2 separate regions of the Homo sapiens genome follow, and region 2 is linked to region 1. Evidence: fine-mapped expression QTL. Tissue or cell type: whole blood. Region 1 holds a variant in brackets; the other region holds the start of a gene. All regions are shown on one strand. Distances are between the middles of the regions.

The links. PIP is the estimated chance that this variant, and not a neighbour inherited with it, causes the effect.
Region 2: it holds the start of SPATS2L, and the variant in region 1 is fine-mapped to the expression of SPATS2L in whole blood (TOPMed, PIP 0.95).

Annotation. Positions count from the first base shown.
Region 1 is chr2:200,466,295-200,474,400 of GRCh38, forward strand. SPATS2L (spermatogenesis associated serine rich 2 like) reads left to right here. Exons shown (of 13, transcript NM_001100423.2): 10 at 996-1,105; 11 at 3,620-3,722; 12 at 6,538-6,758. The region is part of intron 2 of LOC101927741 (a long non-coding RNA gene); the gene reads right to left. Among named protein-coding and RNA genes, the nearest start is that of KCTD18, 40 kb to the right of the region's middle. RefSeq lists enhancers at 5,309-5,488, 6,804-6,953. The variant G/A (reference allele first, on the strand shown) is at 4,710.
Region 2 is chr2:200,301,850-200,309,955 of GRCh38, forward strand. SPATS2L (spermatogenesis associated serine rich 2 like) reads left to right here and starts at 4,844. Exons shown (of 13, transcript NM_001100423.2): 1 at 4,844-5,073. RefSeq lists enhancers at 556-1,755, 1,298-1,347, 4,219-4,318 and silencers at 4,729-5,458, 5,479-5,808.

The DNA.
Region 1 (8,106 bases):
AATACCTTTTTTCTTACACCTCAAAATGCTTGTCCTAAAGAAATGAAGGCAATTCATATGAGTCGAATTAGAGAGCCAGAAGTCTATCTATTGAAAGATCCAGCTGCATATTTAAATCTCATCCTGTGTGTCTGTATTGATTGCTACTGAGCGCCATAATCTTTTGGGAAACACGTGTATACACACACAGACACAAACCAACTGATAGGCTACTACATCTATTTGAACCTTTAGTTCATCTGAAGATGTGTGAAAATGTTGGAGCCAGAGTACTCCCCAGTGTCTTCTCTACGTGTGCAGGTGCTAAAAAATTCACACGAATCTAGTTCTAGCTGGCCTCACTCACTCTTGAAATTTTTCCACTGGGGACACTTATAGAAAGACCTAAGACACTCTGGGGTAGAACTTCTGTTTTTTTGCTGAATGGAAACATATCTGCAGAGTATCAAAAGCAGAGACATTTTTGGCTCACAAAAAAACTAATAAAGTTAGATTTTTATGTCAGATTCCAGTAACACAGCTAGTCACCCTAAGTGAGTATGTGTTAAAGTTCAAGAGGGCTGCTGCTGTTAAAGTTGAATAGTGCAGCACATATAGAATGATTTCTGCTTAGTAGACTTCCTGTCTTGGCGGTATCACTCAGAGAGGATTTTAATAAGTGTTGTTTTTCAGAGATCGTTGTTCGGAGTAACAAATTTCAAAAGTCTAAATTCCGTAAGTGAGGTCAGACACCAGTGGAGAAAATGTAGAGTGGGAGTGTACAGTGAATCAGAAGGGACTGTGTTTGGCTTGGGGATTGGTGGAGGAGGACAGGAGGAACTGGGTTGTTGGTAATAGGCACAGAGGGTGAACCCGCCTCCATGACCAACTCAGAAAACACAGTCGTGGTCCAACAAAGCAATCAGTCTGTGGAGTGAGAACTGATTCCAAGAAATTAGGTTATTTAATATGTTTCAATCTCTGGCCCTAATGTATGACTCCTCCTTATTTGGCAGTGGAAATCCTGACTGCTCGTCAGAAGAAAGCAGAAGAACTAAAGAGACTCACTGACCTTGCCAGTCAGATGGCAGAGATGCAGCTGGCCGAACTCAGGGCAGAAATTAAGGTCAGTTCTAAAATATCACAGCCTGAACCCTGAGCCAGAGAGCTGATCCCAATTATGTTTGTTTTGCATCCACAGAGTTCTGCTCTCTGAGGATCTAACATGTACACCCAGCTCTCTTCCACAGGGTGGAAATAGAGAACACAGAAGGGGGAAGACCCACATAATCACTGTGTTTAAGTGTAATGTGCTTTGAAGGAATGTGTTACTCCAAAGGAGAGGTACAAGCTATTTTGTCAGTCAGTAGAGACTGAACCAAATAAAGTAACTTGGCCAGGCCATGAATTATAGCTGGGATGGGGGATATTATTTTCACACACTGTGATTTGTATGTATGCATATAAACACATCCACAGGTATATATACACACACGAAGCATGAACGTAGTGTAATGGTGAAGATTAGAAAGCATGCGGTCTGTGGAGATTTCTTTCCTGTATTATTTTCTAGTTTAGTTGCATTTTTATTAAGAATACTACCCATAAATACGTATTTATTAGATTCCTTCATTGACAAGCAACAGAAACTGACCCTGGCTAACCTCAAGGACAAGTAGAATTTGACAGGATGTGAGTATAGCTCAGCAAAGCAGAGCCCTGTCTGAAGGCTCAGCTCAACAATTAGGTAGGAACTGGGGTGGCTCTGGTGAAATAAGAAGCAATAATCACTAGACACTCTCATGGGACCATCAGCCCTGTACCACCCCACTTGGCTCGGATCCCTAAGAGAGAGGCTCTGATTGGCCTCCACTTGGGTCACGTCCATCATTTGGCCCAGAGAGGGTGTGACATCTTGATCGCCAGACCCACCAAGACTGTGGATCTTTGAAACTGCATCAGGGTACAGTTACCAGAAGGGGAAATAGTTACCAGGAAGGCAAGTATAAGTATTTACAACAAAATAGGAAGAAATTTTAAAATTCCCCTTATCCACTTTTTCACCCAGTATACTACACACACACACACACACACACACACACACACGCCTTCCAGCTTCTTACCCACTTCCAGGAAACTAGAGTGGTTGCAAGACACAGCTGCTGCTAGCTTTGAAAGTAAGATTGCAAATTGGGGCATAAAACTGCTTGGCAATGATTGACAGTGGCAAGTGACTTTTCAACTCCCTCCCTCCTGGTTGGGCATGAAAGCGGGCCCCATGGGGAAGAGGACCTCACCTGAGGGTGCTGAGGGCGTCAGTGGCCTTTCCCTCCTCAGCTTCTCTGCTCTGGCCTTTGTGGCCTCCCACCCAGCCAATTGCAGTGGCCTCCACACTAGTCTCTCTGCCTACACTGTCTCCCTTCAGCCTCGTACTCCACTAAGACCAGACGTAAACTCCCAAAGCAGATCTGGTTTCCCCAGTATATCTCCTTCCCCTCAGAAAGAAATTCACAGCTGGACTTCAATATATGTTCCAACTTCCATCTCTCTCTACAAAAATCCCAGCTTGTTAGAACATCAAGTAAGAAATATAAAATTGCTAGCTTCCTGATCTATTGAAATCACCTCATCTTCCGAGTTTCATTTCTGCCTATCAAAACGCCACCCATCATAAAATAGTTAGTAGCACAGGCTTTGGAGTGAAACAGTCCAGCTGCAAAATTTTCTACTTCTGTGACCTTGGATAAGTTACACATTCTCTTAGACTCGTAGAACCCCAATTCCCCCATCTGTAAAACAGAGGTAATAATACTGACTTCATAATACTGTGATCAGATGAAATGAGATTATCTGCTAAGAATTTGACCAGTGCCTCGTAAGTGTTCAATGATTTTTTCAATGTTCCCTCTTAAATAACTCTTTCCCCATTGCCCTCAGTAGGAAATAATTTCTTCCTCTTTTATATTCCTAAAGCACCAACCACATTCCACCTTGTATTGTAGTTAATGGTATCTGTTTTCCTTGCCATTGCTAAACTCCCTGGTAAACTCAAGAAGGGACTGAGTCGCAGTTATTTCTGTATTTCTCACCATGTCTTCTACACACAGATCTTAATTTTAAATGAATGGAAAAATAATCTCTTTCTCACTTCTTTTCACAGCACTTGAAATTCTGCCATTTAAAATAATATTTTCCAGACACTAAAGGCTTTGTGGACGTCCCGGTTCCCTGTTAAAATAGGAATGGGGGTCTAGGAAGGACGACATGTTTTCTCTTGATGGTTAATACCTTAGAAGGCACTTGGCCAAACTCAGAAGACCCTGCCAGAATGCAATTCAGAAAAGTACTAGGAGGGCGAGGGGTGCTAAAAGGTTAAATAGATGAGTCAGACACACATTTCATGTAGGCCCAAACAAGAGAAACACAGGCCCCTCACATATTCCCCAGGCAGGAAGATGCTCATTCCCTAGCCAGGTCAGCACTAAGACTGAGCGTGGAGCCTCCCAGCAACAGGGCTGGAAAGATCCCCACCAGGTCAGCACTGCAGTGGACACCGGAAGAGCAGAGTGAACGCATCCACGGGGGTGCCTTGGTCATTTCTGTAATCATGGGGTTCCTGCTTTTCATCTCTTTCCTCCAGCACTTTGTCAGCGAGCGTAAATATGACGAGGAGCTCGGGAAAGCTGCCCGGTTTTCCTGTGACATCGAACAGCTGAAGGCCCAAATCATGCTCTGCGGAGAAAGTGAGTTTTGCATATTTGCTGAATAATTCTGTGTGAGTAACCTTGGTGCTATTTGGAGTTGCTATTGGAAATGTCAGGTGTGCAGTCCCCCCAGGGGGCTAACGTGAGGTCTAAAGAGATTTAATGATCTAAGCTCATGACACAAGTCACCAGAAATGTCGAGATTTGAACCTAGAGTCTTCAAATGCCACTGCCCATCAGTAATTCCCCAGGATTTATTAAGTGGAACAGAACAGGTCAACTAGTTGATACCTTTTGCAAACTTTTATTAAGCACTGCCAGTTAAACTGCTTCTCTGATTTCAAACAGCCCTGGTTCTACAGAAACTCGTTAGGCAGAGAGAGTGAGTCTTCCTAACATGTCTGGGAACAATCAGTTATTGTTGTGCAGGGCCCAGCTGTTATGCGAGCCCCTCAGCAGTGCCCTGAGCCTCCACCCTCGGTTCTCTGTGCTGAGTGAGGCTGCAGATAATGAAAGACTTCACTCAGCCATTAGCTTTAGTCTTGTTCCCTATTAAGCCTTAATTAGAGCAGCTAATGTGCAACAAAATTGGCTGCTATATTTTCCCCCTACACCAGCCCACCCACAAGGGGAGGTGGGAATGAGCACTGAAGCGGCTTTAAGGACGGCCACAAGGAGGAAAGGACTAGTCAATGACGTGGAAACCCACAGCCTCGCAGTCAGCTGAAAAATTAAGATTTGGCTGCACTTCCTATTATGATAGAATTAACTATACTGTACTACACTGCATACATATATAGTAACACAATTTGCTTTTATCACTTCACAATCTATGGTAGACATTTTTTCATATCAATATATTTAACCAGTCATTTCTCTAAATATAATAGATGTCACCGGTCTTCTGGTTGCTGCATTTAGATTGCTTGCAGTTTTTCACCATTAAAATAACACTCTGATCACCTGAGGCCAGGAGTTCGAGGCCAGCCTAGCCAATATGGTAAAACCCCCATCTCTACTAAAAGT[G/A]CAAAAATTAGCTGGGCGTGGTGGCAGGTGCCTGTAAGCCCAGCTACTTGGGAGGCTGAGGCAGGAGAATCACTTGAACCTGGACCCGGGAGGCAGAGATTGCAGTCAGTGGAGATCGCACCACTGCACTCCAGCCTGGGCGACAGAGCGAGACTCCATCTCAAAAAATTAATTAATTAATTAATTAACACTGCTGCGAGCATCCTTGTCCACACATCCTTGCCAATTATTTGATTTTCTGACTGCATTTTTAAAAATTATTGTTCCCCCCTGTACTCTTCCTTATGAAAGAATCTACCTATTTGCCATTCTCTATCCCCAGCTTTTGCCCCACCTCTAAAAAAGGGAACTGCCCACCCTCTTTTCCACTTCAGCCCTCAATGAGCAAGACAGTGATGCTGAGCGATGCCCTGTCACCACCGATCTCGGGGCGATGGAGAGGTGCCCCTTCACCTCCTTTCCTCCTGAGCACTTCAAGTGCCATCTAGTGGGAGAAATGGTCCCTTACTAAATTCCAGGTGTCCATTCTGAAAGACAGACACCGTAATCATCCAAAGGCCCTTCCTTCTCAGCTTTGTTGAGAGCACATTGAGAACCCACAGGTACTGAACCGGAAATAGTGGTCCCTGATCTGCAGACAATAATGACCCCATGAAACTGAATCTGGTGAGCATAGGAGCCACGGAAATCCCCTGGTCACATTTGGACAGCCCCAGCTTGCTGTCACACCTTCCCAGTACACTGAAGGGACTGGGGATGTGTCCCTGGCCTTTCCATTTCTCCTGTATTGTGATTCTTACTGGTCCCGCCTAGTCCTCTAGCAGAACCCTGGGATTAAATCTGATCCAACAAAGAGAGCAGACAAAGTTGCTTTCAAAAATTGGTGACAGTTTTAAGCCTCAAAGAAAGGTCTAGCTGGCAGTCAGATTCTGGTGAACTGTGAGAGGGAAGTCAGGGCTTTATCCTTGAATTGATTCCCTCCAGTTCTGATTCAGTGTAATCACATAGAAATCATCCCAGCAGAAACCACCACTTTCAAAACCAGGGGGAATGGTCATAATAAACGCTGAGCAGACCTGCCTGAGCCCTGAGCCCTGAGCCCTGAGCTCTGACGGGTGTCCGCCTGATCAGCCTGCCTTGCCTGTAACCTTGGAAGTGGTGCACATCTGCAGTGAGGCTGCAGAAAACGGGGCTGATTAAAGGTGTGATGATGGAGCACTAATGAAATATACAAGATGCCTTAGGGGCTGGCGGGCCTGGCCCTGTGTTTGGGGGATATGCATGACCCAGAGTAACAGAATTCCTAACATCCAACATCACCCCATTCCCAAGCTCTCAGAACATCGTGGATCTGACAGGCCAGAGTGTCCGCATAGCTCCCAATCTTTCTGTGTCTGCAGTACCAGTTGGTCCAGGGAACTGATCAGGGAAGTGAGAACAGGTTTGGTAATGGGGACTCTACGAGGCAGAGTACATTTGCAGACAGGGCCAGAGAGGGAACCTTGAGGTTTCATTATCTCTTTTCCCTTGGTGGTTCTTGACCTAAAGAATAATATTTAAGTTGGTCAGATATGTCTTATTTCCTACAAATGTCTCCCAACTTGGATGATTATGCTGTAATCACAGTTCAGTGATTCCCACAAAAGAAATTTGGTTGTTCTCTTAAGCACCAAGATGCCCTTTCAAATAACATCTTTCAAAAGAAAACTTTTTAATGTTTTTGTGGAGCTCCTGGCCAGTTTCTTCATCTTCTAGCGCTTCCTAATGGGTTACTGAGGCAGCAGTGTTGGAGGTGCAGCTCGTAACACTGAGCACTTTATTATTGCAGTTACACATCCAAAGAACAACTATTCCTCAAGAACTCCCTGCAGCTCCCTGCTGCCTCTGCTGAATGCGCACGCAGCAACCTCTGGGAAACAGAGTAACTTTTCCCGAAAATCATCCACTCACAATAAGCCCTCTGAAGGCAAAGCGGCAAACCCCAAAATGGTGAGCAGTCTCCCCAGCACCGCCGACCCCTCTCACCAGACCATGCCGGCCAACAAGCAGGTAAGCCGACACTGGTGCAGGGTGCCAGAGGAAAAAAAAAAAAAAACCTGTTTCCAGAGGAAGAAAACAGCAACTACTAGATTCTGGGCCTCCTGGGGTCACACTCAGGCTCCCGCCACCTGCCCTCACCCACTCCCCACCCAGCAGCACTGCCCAGCTGGCCTCTTGGGAACTCCCCTGGTCGCTCTCATCCATGCCTGCCAGGTGCTTTCCCATGTGGAGGAAGTGGCCTGCATGCACTCTTGACCACGTGAGCAGAGTCCACCCCAGTGACACAGTTCTTCTCATGGCTAGGACTGCCACCATCCCTGGGGCCCCGAAACCAGCCCACACGTGGAAGGGACCCACAGAGACTCTGGAACAAGACTCGGAACCTACTAAACTACTAATGAGAGGAAATCTGGCATTTGTTTTTTAAGATATTTTAATCCCCATTTATGTTTAGCTGATCAATAAGAGGCTAAAGTTAGTGCAGTCTTCTCTTCTCTTGGGATTTCAGTAAGGAGAATACATTTCAAAATGGCATTCTTCATTCTTATCTATTATGATGTCTAAAGACACAAGTGTCCAAAGAACCATCTTCCTTCTCTCCTTCTGCTTCTCCACTATATCTTTTGGAGGTGATTTCCCCCTTATCCTTAGAGAATTAACAAAAAATTGGGATCTGCCGGATGCAATGGCTCACTCCTATAATCCCAGCACTTTGGGAGGCCAAGGTGGGCAGATCACTTGAGGTCAGGAGTTTGAGACCAGCCTGACCAACATGGTGAAACCCTGTCTCTACTAAAAACACAAAATTTAGCCAGGCATGGTGGCGGGTGCCTGTAATCCCAGTTACTCGGGAGGCTGAGGCAGGAGAATTGCTTGAACCCGGGAGGCGGAGGTTTCAGTGAGCCAAGATCGCACCACTGCCCTTCAGCCTGGGCAACAGAGTGAGACTCCATCTCAAAAAAAAATAAAAATAAAAATAAAGGATCTGATGATATAGAAGTTGGGCATGCTATAAAGATACCTAAGATACCTTTTATCATCTCCAAGAAAAAGTCTTTTCTTTTTTTTTTTTGTAAGACTTTAAAAATGGTGGTTTTCTAACAGGTGTCTTGTTGGGTTTTGCTGTCTCAGCCTTTGAGAATTCTTATTAATGATATTGACAGGTGTTTTCTCAGGCCCTGAAGTCTTCATGAGCTTTAAGATAGCACTTTGACAAGGAGCATGTTATAATCTCATTAGTTAAAGATCATAATCAAATCTGTTTTTACTTGTAGTCTAAATATATCTTCACAGTTTTTGTTCTTTTTTTTTTCTTTTTTTTGGCACAATCTCGGCCCACTGCAGCCTCAACCTCCTG
Region 2 (8,106 bases), 160 kb before region 1:
TCACTTGATAGAAATGTTAAATTTTTATAGTCTTCTCTGTTTAATTTTTTTCTGTTATAGCTTGTGAAATTTTTTCATGATATTTCTAATTAGTATTATAAAGCTCTTATAAGGAGCCCTTATAGCTCCTACCTACAGTACTTACTAAGAAGCAGCCTTCGATTATAAATATTATAAATATTGTAAAAGTCTCCTATATTTTCTTTTAGTCTTTTATAGTTTTTTATGTTTAGATTATTAATCCATCTGGAATTTTTTCTGGAATATGAGCTAAGACAGTGTATTAGTCATGCTTCATTCAACAGAAGGATTTTTTTTTTACTCAGATAACAATTGTGGGTGTTCAGATAACAACTGTGGGTGTTCAACAAGCAGACACAGGTATATTAAATGTTTATATTAAATGTTTTAATATCAGGTGTTTGTGAGTGTCTATAAGAAATAGTGACAGGGTGACTCAGAGACCCAGGCTCCTTCCATCCTAGCTCTACCCTCCTCTTGATAAGGGGTCAGCAAATTACAACCCATAGGCCACATGCAGCCCACTGCCTGTTTTTGTAAATAAAGTATTATTGGAACATAGCCATACTTATTTGTTTACATAGTGCCTATGGCTGCTTTCCATAAAACAGCAGAGTTGAGCAGTTTTGATAGAGACTATATGATCCACAAAGCCTAAAATATTTACTATTTGGCCCTTTATAGAAAAAGTTTCCTGACTTCTGCTTTGAAGTCTCAGGGTCCTTAGTTTCCACATGGCAGATGGGGAAGAGAGATCATGTGGGAGGCTTTCCACGGATGAGGCCTGGAAGGGGAGTACAACACTTTCGCCTACATTCCATTGGCCAGAATTCAGTCCCTGGCTTCACCTAACAATTTGGGAGGCTAGGAAATGTGAATTTATTGTGCACTGAGGAGGAAAGGGAATAATTAGCCATATTCTGCCAAGGTGTTCCCTGCAATTATCTGTTTCTTTCTTCCTTCCTATTTTTAAACAGAATAGGCTAGATTACGGTGCAGAAACAACCAACCATCAAATCTCAGTTGCTTAGAACAAAAAAGGCTTATTTCTTGATCATACTACATGTCCACTAATGCTCAGCAGGGATGGCATTGCTCATTGTTGTCATTCACTCCAGTCTGATGAAGCAGTCACCACCACGCACCTTGATGTTGCAGCACTAGGAAGAAAAGAATGCGGTGACTGATGTCCCAACTCTTAACTTCTGACTCAAAGTTATACTCATCACTTCCGGCCACCTTTCATTGGCTGAAGCAACTCGCAGGGCTATACTATACTTTAGTCAGGTGGGGAAGTACAATCTTATCATGTGCTTCAAAGGCAGCAGAGCTGGAATATTTGTGAACAGCCCTACTGGATTGCACATTAACAAACACAGAACACATATTCATCCCCTTCCTATGGGAGATAACCCAGATTCCATTCATTCACTGCACACAAAGTCCAAGATCCTAGATGGTAGATGCCCTCCCCAATAAGTTTGAATATTGCCTAGTGATCTGGAGTCTAGCAACTAAAATTCCTCTCTGTCCCCACTACTTATTCAGATATCAAAATCCTAACAGAGTCACAACTGATCATGGCCTGAAACAGGTTTCCAGAATCTGAGCTATATCCACAAATGTGAGCCCTGCTCTGAACGATCATGCCTAGAGAATCAGGAGCCTGGTACAATCTAGGGGTGGCAAGCGGGAAATACGGCATTTTGCAAAAATCAATACTGCAAGAAAAGAGTCATCTTTATTGAAGGACATGGCATTGTTTCTCCAGGCTTACAATTAAGCACCCTGAATAAAGAGTGTAGGTGACAATGTGGAGGAAAGCAGTACGCACAGATTAAAAATACCTACACGTAAATGTTAAAAAATATAAACGAACATACTTTGTTCATCCCTCAGAAAACATCTGCTCTTATGGTTCTTGTTTTGTTTGCTTAAGAAAAGATCTTCACATTTCTATTTAGTTTAGAAAATAGTAAAATGCAATTCAATCTCTGAATTGTAATCACAGAGAATCATTTTGAACAATACTGTCAAACTAGCATTACACAGATCAAGATTTCAAACAATGTAATTTTTCAAATAAACTTTGACCATCTGGTGAAAACATCAACATATATCTTATTCATATTTTGTTTCTTCAGACTTTTCTATCTCCCTATAATAATAGGAATATAATGCATATTTTAAAAATCATTTATGCCTAATTCAGAAAAATAATGCTTTGTTAGTTATATGATGTGCAAGAAGCTTTTACATGTTTCAATAAGCATATTAAATCCTCTCTAACAGAAACAGAAGTTTTCATTATTTCCAGAAGAAATTAATTTGAACAGCAAAAGGTTCAAGTTTGATTTGAAATTCACTGTCTCTAAAACTTTTAAAACTCTGATTTTTTTGGGGGGGTGCTGGGCCCCTTAGCTAACTCTTGAAATATACAATTGTTTTCTTCGAAGTTATTCTATACTTGTCTTTTCACGCGCTAGGCCTCCACTCACAGTAGAGAATTAGTTTTAGCCTAGTCTGTGGTACAGTGGCTACTCCTACCTGCCTAGTCTCTATTTTTTCATTGATTCACTGCTTTAACATCTTTGCTCTCAACACATACAGCATTTATTCTTATAGCTCCTACCTACAGTACTTACTAAAAGAAGCAGCCTTCGATTAGAAAGGCGGTATATGGTCTTCTTAAAACCCTTTCTTCCCTCTGGTCATATTCTGTTCTTGAAGGCATTTTTTTCTGTCGGACTTCACTAAGCAAGTTAGATTTGGAGTCATGGGAAGATTATGAAGTGGTGGAAGAAAAGAATGAAGACTGAGTTCAATGTTATTTCCAAAGCCCTTCCTAGGAAAAGTGTTGTTTATTATTCATTTTGGAATTCTAATTATGGAGGAAACCTCCCAAAAACATAAATAAATTATTTAGCCAGAGGACCTAAGAAGTGCATCAAATTTCAAGTCAAATGGCTACAAGTTACTTATTACACCTAAATTTAATAAGCAATAGGATGTTTGTTCTTTATGTGTGGTATGGCTTCTAGAAGCAAGCTTTCCTCTCTGTAGCACAGGCAGGGTCCAACGGTCTAGGTTCAAATTCTTCCTTTACCACTTACTAGCTAAAAACTTAGGCAACTTATTTCACCTCTCTGTGCCTCAGTTTCTTTCTTTCTTTTCTTTTAAAGGCTCTGGCTCTGTTGCCCACACTAGAGCGCAGGGGTGTGATCCTGGCTCACTGCAACCTTAGCCTACCTGGTTCAGGTAATCCTCCCACCTCAGCCTCCTGAGTAGCTGGGACTACAGGCGTGCACCACCATGCCCGGCCAATTATTATTATTAGTTTTTTTGTTTTGGAGGGATGGAGTTTCACTATGTTGCCCAGGCTGGTCTTGATCTCCAGGGCTCAAGAGATTTGCCCACCTCGGTCTCCGAAAGTGTTGGGATTACAGGTGTGAGCCACTGGGCCCAGCCCTCAGTTTATCTGTAAAACAGGACAAAAGTAGTACCTACCTGATGGGGTTCTTCCAAGGATTAAATGAGCTAGTACTTATAAAGCACTTGCTAATGTCTGTTAAATAAATTATATTATCCACACACCAATCCAAGGCGACTATAAGGTAGCAAGAACCACTCCAAGTCACATAAGAAAATGAATTCCTTTCGTTTTAGCTCCTCTCTTTATTTCAGCAGTGCGTTGTCAACAGGGCCACATTATGTTAGCAGATTTGAACTTTATCCGAAAGGTGTTTGTATTTTATTTCAAATTATGAATTCCTGAACATCGGATTATGTACGATTCTGCAGTGCCCTCGGAGGCCCATTAGAGTCTGGAGCTCGAGAAGCATAACAAACTCTGGTCTGATATTTGTAAGGAGCTTGACAGCCAAGGAGCCACTCAGAAACAGTTATTGGTATTGCCAAAAAAAAAAAAAAAAAAGGAAGCTAAGAAGTCACCCTTCTAAATAAATAAATAAATAAATAAATAAATAAAAACCTGAATTGGAGAGCTGCCTGCATTTCACTCTACTGCCTCTGGAAGAAGAGTGTTATCTAAAGTGCTTCCATCATGAATAATGATTGAGAAACTGCTTTTACTCTCCCGACTACTGTACTCCCAGGCAGAAACCCACGGCTGAAGCCCACGATGCCCATGTGTAACTTGGTTATTACACACACGTTTGGAGCCCAGTGTGCAGACCCGCAGCGCAGAGGAGGCGGCGGAACACCCCGGGTTGGTCGGGTTTCCAAGGGCTGACCCGAGCTCCAGCACTTTTTCCGCGCCTGATTTTTCAGGTCATTTTCGAATGGGCTATCTTTGCTTACATTTTGAGCTTGGATCCTCTCCAGAAAGCATTACTACCTTCTAAAAGGAAAAACATCTCGTATTTGCAGACAGTGCTGAGGGAGCAAAGTTCATTTTCTCGGGTAGGAGAAGATGATTCTCTTGCAACACGTGCGGATTGTGACAAAATCTTTCATTAACAAGGGGAGTTTCGGTGAAGTGGAGGTTTGGGGAAAGGCGAGGAAGTCGGTCTGGAGCAAGCAAGCAAAGTGCGGAAGCTGTACTGGGATTCTTCTAGAAAGTGGGGTGGGAAAGGAGCTAGGGAGGGCGTGTGGAGGGACGAGATCTGTGTCAGAACGTGCGTGTGAGCGGATACAAAACCCGAGAGAGGCGTGAGCAGCGCTGTGTTTGCGAGCGGGAGCGAGGGGCGCCGGCTGGGGTGTGTGCTCCTGGTGAGTGACACCGAGGGGAAGGCGGGCGGGTCGGCGGGCGGGGGCAGCCTGCGAGGGGCGGGAGTGTCCCTGCGTGGGGCGGCCGAGCCGGAGTTGTGTCAGTGAAGGAATCCAGTCCGGGGGCCGAGCTGGCTGCGCCCTCCGCTGCAAGCGCCGGCAGCGCGGGGCGAGCTCCGGACGGCGCGCGGCCCAGGCAGCGGCTCCCGCTCGGCCCGCCCTCCGAGCCGCAGGGGCCGCCACCGCCGCGGCGCCTCCCCTGGCGACCGCGCCCCCGGGCCCCGGCTCCGGCCCGGGACGGAGGAGCCGGCGCTCGACACAGAGGTAAGCCCAGGACCCCCTCCACGCCGGGCCGGCTGGGGATGCAGGGCGCGGGCGGACGCGGAGGGGCCTGCGCGGCCGGGACGGAGACTCGGCTGGGCCGAGCATTCCGCAGCCCGGGCCGCCCAGCCTCCGCCGCCTCCCGGAGCGCTGGGTGTGGCCCGCGCTCGGCGCCGAGGCGGGCTGGTGGCGCGGACCGGACGCGAAGGTCGCCGTCCTTCCTTTCTCCAGCCGGCGCGGGCAAGCGGGAGGAGGCGCCGGCTGGGACGCACAGTGGCGCTCCCCGGGCGAGCGTGTGGCCGCCGCGCTCCGACGTGTACCCGCCCGCCCCGGATCTGAATCGCCCGCGGCCGCCGTCCCTCGCCTGCCGTCCTCCCGCGCGGGCGCCCCCGTTCCCTCCCAAGCCGGAAAGAGACCCACCGTCCCCCAGGCTGCTCTCTGGCCCGGAGCCGCAAAGCCCACGTCAGCCGCGACCACCCCGCCCTCGGATCCCAGCCGGGTGCGGGGGCCGCGGCCCCACTGAACCCCGCGCCCCTGGCGCCCAGCGGGAGTGGGATGCGTTGGCGTCCGCGCTGCGCGGGTGGGCTGGGGTGGCCGGAGCAGACGCGGAGCGCCCTGGCCGCGGGACGAAGCGGTCGCGCCGCCGCATTTGGGCGGGGGGACCCCGGAGTCCGCGGGCTGCGGACCCCAGCGGGAGACGGGGTTGTCGTAGGATGCGCTCGCGCTGGACGCCGGCGCACTCTGAATATCATGCTGCCGCACACGCGGGGCTGAAGGGCCGAGTCTTCACCTGCGCGGGGATGCGGCGGAAGCGTCGCGTCTTCGCGAGTGGAGGTTTCGTGTTCCCGCGGGGTTGGTGTGTTTTTGAACTTCACGAGCTTCTCATCCCCCCCGCAATCCTGGTTTTAGCAGATGTCGGGGTTTTGGAGACCTGACACTTTTCGTGAAAGATTCTTTCTGTACGTTTTCTTTTGGCTATATTACAGGGTTTGTAGCTTGAGAACTAGTGAAAACCCTTGAACTTCAAACACAGTCTCATTGCTTATTTTTTGAAATTTAAATATTAAAATATGTACCAGCCCCCTCACAAGCCGACAGACTTTAAGACAAACGACTGTGAAATTTTAGAACCTGTGCAGAGAAAGTGGTTTTATACCAGTACTTGAAATAGTAAGGTCGTGTAACCTTTTTAACATCGTTTTAGTTTGTCTTAAAGGAAGGTTTCAGCACCACTTTGACTGGTACTGTTTTCCAGAGTTTAAGCAGATGTATGTAATATAGCAGGGAAGAGGACAGGAAGTCAGAAATCTCTTCACTCTGAAAAAAAAAAAAGACTTCAAATAATACAACCAATACCCTGAAAATAGAGTGGCCGTCTGGATAAAGTATTTGATAGGCCTTATGAAATTGTGTTGCTTAACCAGAAAGCAATGTGTTGTTAGATAGGGCAGTTTTATCTAGTAACTGTCGTGTTTAAAAATATCTGTGTATGATATTCTTTGTTGAATTTTAACTGGGGAAAAATCAACTTTGGGAATGGGTTTCTATTTGGACAAGGCAAATACTGCAGTTTCTAATTAGAGTTTTGGAATAAGCTCAAGCTGTGTTAAAACCTATTGTATGGAGCAGCAGAACAGAAAACATGTCAAATCTGTATCTGTGTGGCAGAAAACATGTCAAATTCTGTATCTGTGTGGCTTTAAATACACACACACACACACACAGACACACAAACTAGAGACTAGCCCCAAAAGATAATTTGCATAAAAATACAATCACTTGAATGCAGAGAATAGCTAAAGACGTTAGTAAAAACTGAACATCTGGGAAAAGACTGTATTAATTGGCAATTTTCTTTCTTTAATCCCTGAAAATATTAAATGATTTTCTAAGAATCAACTTAGTTTAATGTGCTCATTTAGACAGGCAAAATGATCAAGACTCCTTTTGTATTCATTTTGTTTTAGGGAGCCCCCTAATGAAAGTCTTCAGTAAATAGTTTTTCTGCATGCACTGATTTTCCTGAGGCCATTGTGGAGAGAGTTATCTGTGGGCTTGAGAAGCTGCTCTGCCACACCAGTAAGGATCAGGGAAAGAAAATACTTAGGCCACACCGTTGCAGTCTTTGATTGCATGCCAGTCTGAAGCATTTTATGGACCCGTTTTGCCATGTAAGTGGTAAGCTTTTACATCAGAAGTTAAGCTTTAGAAATATCTCACTTTGGGGCCTAATTTTTGTGAGTTTCTCAGTCTGCGATCAGAGTTGTGTTATCAATCACAGTGAATGTTCGTGAATGGTTGTGTGTTGAAAGGGCATAGGTGGTCTTCATTCTATTACTTTACACAGTTTTAATCAGCATTTTCTGAGGTGAGCCAGGACAAGAACTTCTGGTTACAGTTTGGATAGGATGGAAAAAGTTGTGGTTGCTCTTCGTAAGATCTAAGCTGCTACTACCTGTCCCACTGTATGACAAGAGTGGAATGCATTTTATGTGCACTTGACAGGTACTGCTTAGTCACTGCTTCATAGTACTTCTTTCCTAGCCATCTTCTGTAGCACTTTTACTGTCATTTGACTGTGATAATTAAATCATATGTTTTTTATAATTTCTGTGCACAGAAGAGTAGATTTTACAAGCATGACACAGGACATGAGAGTAGGTGTCTCATATGGACAGATTTAAGTGATTGGGTCTGTTTATTGATCTCTGAATGTTGTGCAACATTCAACTAATCCATTTCATCACTGTTTTGCCTTAAAGTGTAATCACACAATTAAAATAAGATTTTCATGTTACAAACAGTTAAAAACCCAGTAAACATAATTATAGAAGAAAAACAAACCTTTCTTTTTTCTTCCCTTTTTTGAAGTAGTCTTGCTATGAAGGTGTTATGTCTTTGACACATCAAAATGGCTAATTTGGAGTTGTGATGCTTGTTATGTAAATAGGCCATATGTTGAATTTCTGCAGAAGCTTATTCCTTCAGTGTTGTGGTAATGGGTAGGATCCCCTAAGTACCATAGCTGAGAAAAAT